Regions from separate parts of the Homo sapiens genome. Here region 2 is linked to region 1. Evidence: fine-mapped expression QTL. A gene starts in region 1. The other region holds a variant in brackets. All regions are shown on one strand. Distances are from middle to middle. Region 1 holds the start of DLK1 (delta like non-canonical Notch ligand 1). Region 2 has its middle 23 kb from the start of LINC00523.

The links.
Region 2: its variant is fine-mapped to the expression of DLK1 in left ventricle (GTEx, PIP 0.97).

Annotation. Positions count from the first base shown.
Region 1 is chr14:100,725,640-100,728,430 of GRCh38, reverse strand. DLK1 (delta like non-canonical Notch ligand 1) reads right to left here and starts at 1,539. Exons shown (of 5, transcript NM_003836.7): 1 at 1,296-1,539; 2 at 1-35. The coding sequence starts at 1,362.
Region 2 is chr14:100,678,810-100,681,600 of GRCh38, reverse strand. No RefSeq gene overlaps it. Among named protein-coding and RNA genes, the nearest start is that of LINC00523, 23 kb to the right of the region's middle. RefSeq lists enhancers at 484-1,077, 1,672-2,265. The variant T/C (reference allele first, on the strand shown) is at 1,525.

The sequences.
Region 1 (2,791 bases):
ATTTTGGGGGTTGCAGGCCGGGAAGCATTCAGCCCCTGAGGTACAAGAAAGGTTATACAATTCACCCCACCAGGCCCCAGGCCAAGGCAAAGGCTGTCTTCGCCCACACAGCCCACCACTGCCCTCGAGGGCACCAACAGCCCTCTTGGGTCCTACCAGCCTGGCACACAGTAGGCACTTCCTATCCGAGCATGGATGGGGCTCAGTGCACTCAGGAAAAACATCTCTGCCACGTTCCCAGCAATGAAATGACCACAGTACACTCTCCCTCGTTCTTAGGAGCAGGAGAAACACCTTCTCCTCGGACTCCCAAAAGCAAATACGACACCTCAAGTCCTCCTAACAGCGGGGACGGGGACCGTGGAGGGAAATATGTTGAGCCCTGGGCATGCAGCCTGACCGTCACTTTTGCAACCTGAGCTGAAAAGAGGAGCAGATTTTGAGGTGTTCAACTCCGGGAAAGCCCAGACAGGTTCACCTGGTGGGCGCCCCAGTAAGGCGTCTGCATTCTTTTTAAGGTTCATCCCTATTAAGCCGGGCACCCAGGTCAAATCTTCCCTCTTTCCCCTACCCCAGACTCTTCGCATTAAAAAAACGATGACGACACAGGGTTTTGCTTAGCGGGCTGAGGTTGCAACAACACTGCTTAGAGATTCTGACACTTTAACAGGCACCTACTGTGTGCATTTACTCAACCAGCTCCCCAGCTTTCTAGACAGCCCCCTTACAACCACTGGTGCAATGAGTGGGGGGGCGCTGCAGGAAGGGGGCAACTCTCTCGCTGTCAGAGACAGATGGCCGCTGCAGACAGAAGTGTCGCAGCCCCTCACCTACAGAAACGCGCCACGCAGGAAGGGCTCAGGCTGGGCTTCTCTGGGAATTGGGGGCTAAGACGGCAAAGTCGTCCCCCACTCCCGCCCCGAGACCTGTTCCAGAACGCTCACACAGGGACACCCCAAAGTTGCACCCCAGAGTATTTTCATAGAAGACTCCACAACAGCACCCCATTTTTCCATACCTCCTTGCTCAGCGCACCGACACCCCTCTGGCGCCACTTCTGCAGGGCGGGAAGGGGCTGGGGGTCTCACACATCCCCTGCGCCCTGGGACCCCTGGGACGGGCCTTGGCATGCGAGCGTGGTGGGTAGGGCGAGACAGGCACAGCGCGGGGCTTAGGGCTAGGCGGGACGGGCGGAGTTGGGGCTCACGAGACGGGGCGTGCGGGGCACCGGGCGGCCGGCGGGGAGTCGCAGGCTTCCCCAGAGGGGGCGCGAGCCGGGCCGCCGGGGAACTCACCATAGGTGCTGTGGCCGAAAGCCAGCAGGAGCAAGAGGACGCGCAGGAGGGCTTCGGTCGCGGTCATCTCTGGGCGGCCGGGGTCGCGGTCCCGGGAGCGGTGCGGGCGCGGGTCCGGCTCCTGGCGCCGCACTGGGCTTCTGGTTGCGGACGCGAAAGGGGGCGCGGGCGCGCAGCGAGGGGAAAGCCAGGGCTGCACCGGGCTGCGCGCTGCGCTCTCCACCGCCGCTGCCGGGGAGCTGCCGCCGCCGCCGCGCGCGCCGCCCTTTTCGTACCGCCTCCCCCCTCGCGGCCCCCGCCCCCCGCCCCCGCCTCCGTGCGCACGGGGCCGGCGCCGGCCAGTCCCTGTGACCCCCTCCCCTCGCAGGGCCGCCCCCGACCACGGCGGCGTCCCAGAAGCCCGCTCGCGCACACGGGTGCACTCTTGGCTAGACGGGCACAGGTATCCCGCGAGCGTTTGGTACACGTTCCCTCACACTGTACAGCACGCGGCCGCCGCGCACATACAGGCCTGCCTAGGACAAGTCGCAGGAATCGAACCTGGGCCGCAGACCTCCCCGGAGAGCACAAATCCGCACGCAGGAACACCGAAACACTTATCGCTGAAGTCCCGGGCACACGTGCAATGGTTAGATACCCAGGAAAACACAAAGGCGCACTATGAAGATGTGAACTAAGCACATAATTACACACGCACACAGAAAAACCCCCAGGAAAAGCCCGACGCCCCCTGTACCCCTGGCCATGAAGACGCAGAAAAATGCAGTTGCCCCGTGGCAACCCACACCCCGCAACGGAAACGCACACGGCAACTCAAACACACTGTAGCCCAGACGCCGTATAGACACAGTCCTAGGTGGCAGAGGGTCAAGCGGACCTGCGGTTACCCAACCATGGGCATCCTCCCCCATGTGCCGACCCCCTGCACACAGACGCTTACGCAGAGCCACCTGCACACCCAAACACGCAAACACACGTATAAACAGACGGACACCCGTGCCCGCATTCAGTCACACCCACCCCCGCACACACAGCATCTCAGTCAGGGCCTTAGCCGCGCTGAAACACAAATGCACCGACTCTTACGCACACATGTACGCACAGCCATGCACCTGATACCCACAAGCACACATACCCAGCTGACTCGTGGTCACACACACTGACAAAAACATATACGCAGTCCCCACACACACACGATCGCATCTGTCTTTGTCCACAGTGGCATGCATGGGCAGCCTCACCAATGTGCTCTCACATACACACAATAGCACTCCAGGCACTCGGCACGTATTCCAGACTCACTGGGAGACCTTCTCTGAGGGGTCGCCCGCTGGAGAGGTGGAGGTAGAGGATGCTGATTGCCAGAGACCCTCTTCCTCTGCAGAGCTCCCAGGGAGAGGGAGTGCTCCTCAGACACCCCTCCTCCCCATTGCCCCCGGCTTAGGCTTAGAGCCCTGCTGGAGAGGAAAGCTCTGCACCCCTGCACCCAGTCTGGA
Region 2 (2,791 bases), 47 kb after region 1:
TTCCCAGACTTTCTCCAAAGGCCTGGCTCTTGCCCTTGCCTCCTAAAGCTGCCACTCTGAGGGCCAGTCCTGGCTCCATGCCCTCCCCTCCTGCCATGCTACTGGTGGCCTCATCCTCCTACCACTGAAGACCCCATGTGCCCAAGGCTCTTACGTGCCCAAATCCCAGCTCATACCCAGAGGCCCACCCCAGAATCACAAACCCAACGTCCCTCTCTCCTGAAAGCATCAGCCTCCACGTGTGTGTCCCCCATCTCCCACCTTCTTGAAAATTCTGCCACAACCCACGCACTCCTTCAGCCCACTGCCCCACCCATGCCCCCTCGCTTCTGCTCCAGGCACTCTCCACATCAGCCCCTCCGGTCCCCAGCGGGCTGCTCAGGGACGTGTTTGCATCATGGACCCTTCTGCCTGGAGCCTGCTGTTTCCTGCAGCCGGGGTGCCCCCTTGCTACCCTGGCCCACGTTCGGACGAGAAGCCAGATGCGGACTCCGTGTTGCTCCCTCTCAGGTCCCAGTCAGAGCCTGTGATATCACTGTCCAATCACATGCCGTGTCCCCCGGGGGCCCTCTGGGATACAGAAGTGTCAGTTATCTCTGTGTCCCTAATGGTGGGACAGGAAGGGCATTCAGGCCCACGCAAAGGCCTGCGCTCAGCAGCAGGAGTGCAGAGACAGCTCACTGGCAGCAGGAGGGCGTGGGGCTGCTGGGGCACGGTAGCTGGGGCTGAGGGCCTCTTCCGGTCCCTCGAGGGAGGAGCATAGTCTTTATCCAGGGGGCCACAGGGGCATGGTCACGTCTGAAGCCTTAGGAAAGGTCTGAGTAGAGGCAGGAAGTGGCCTCTGGCCGAGATCGCCTTTGCCTGGCCTCAAGGCCATCCGCTTTCCCACAAGACTCTTGGCCATGGTTGTTCAGGCCACTGTGAGCTTTTTTATGAGGCTGGAGGTTTGTAAAACTTATTAGTTGGTGGAAACTTGCGGGCTGCCGGCCAGCCCTCTGTGGTGGTGGCAGAACCCTGCCCGCAGGACACCCACGTGGCCTGTGACAATGGGGGGAGGCGGAGGGAAGGGGACCCCAGTTCAGGGGTGGTCATCCTCGGCTTCCCACAGCCAGGCGTTCTCAGCCGGTACTGGAGGGAGGGGCTGTCGCCTCGCACCCACCGGTCCTCAGGACACTCGAACCAGGGTTGTGACCACTTGGGAGCCTCTGGGTTGGAGATCAGGCTGGTGGCAGTGCAGGAAGGGAGGACCATCCCCAAACAGCGTGGCCTTTACCACAAAGGAGCCACCCTGGGTTGTCTCCTGGACACGGGTTCAAATCCCTGGTCTGCAGCCACCTAGCCATGTGGCTTGGGACAACAGCAGTAGAATTCCTGGTAAACACCCACTGGTCCCAGGCTCTGAGCTGAGCTCTCACATGAACCAAGTCAGTTGTCAACAGCCTGGAAGGGGACCACCATTATCATCTCCTCTCTAAGTCACATTCTCCTCTGCAAGAGAAGAAGAGTGTGGCGCCCACTTTCTCA[T/C]GTCACAAGAGAGACACTCGTCAGCACCTGGTGCACATTAGCCGCCTGTGGACACAAGCTCTTTCCTTTCCCACCACAAGGCCCTCCTGGAGCTGGCCGCCTCCTCTGCCTTGCTGGGGAGTTCCCTCAGCAGGAAGGAATGTGCAGGCCCAGCGATCTCTGGAAACACCCGGAGTCTGCAGAACGTGCTGGACGCGGTCAGCTGTGTGAGACCTTGGCCCCCAGGCCTCTGGATGCACTGGATTCCCTGGAACAGTTAGCAGGACACAGGGCAAAGGCCTTTCTCCTTCTGTCGGTAATCAAGACCATCTGAGGACCCACGGGGCGCTCACGTTCTACCTTCCCTGGCTTGGCTGAGGGTTGAGAGGGCCTCGGGAAGGGTGGAGGGAGGAGGGAGAATGGACATAGGCCCATCTTTCGGCCTAGATGGAGGAACCGTGTGCTGGCTGGGCAGGCTGCTGGCAGAGGTCAGGAGGGCTCTTCCCTGAGCCCTGCCATCCATGAACTGTGTAACTTTGATCCAGGCCTTGTCCCTCTGGGCCTCAGTTTCCCCAAGCTGGATGTGTCGTCCCCCTGCTTCATTCACAATTACCACCAGAAGGACCAACACCACCCTGCAAGACTCAATGGGGTGATGGATCAATCAGAAAAAAAAACAACAAAAAAAAACACAGATCGCCTAGGGCTTAATTAACAGGAGCATGGTATTCATAGCTGGGGAGGTGAGAGTCGGCTGCAGACTGTACCTAGGCACTAACACTCAGTTCTGGGAGAAAATGACAACTGATGCCTGTTCAGGAGAGGGCACTGCGGTGGGTCTTGCAAGGAACAGATAGGAGAAGCCCTGAGACTTGGTTTGGAGGAAAGAGGCCCAGAAGGTCATGACTGCCACCTCCAGATGCGCTGTGGCCCCGGAGCAGTACTAGAAAGCCCTTTCCTAGCTATGAGACCTCCTCCACAAAGGAATGCACGTTCAATGAGGTAGTGAGCTCTCTAGTCCCGGAGGTAAGCAAGTCTCTGGGTGGCATCTGGGACCTTGTGGATGCCCCAGCAGCCTGGCTGGGCTTACCCTGAGGGGCTAAAGGGAGTGGTTGGGCCCTTCGGCCCCGTGGTTCATGAAGCCTGTAGTGTTCCTCTTGGGGAAGGGGCCACTGATGTTTCCCAGCCATGGAAGTGCCTGGTAGACCTCACAGATGCTTTGATGGTCCAAACAGGTGCCTCTGAATGCCACATCTTTGGGCTCCAGGCTGAGAATGCAGGGGAGGGG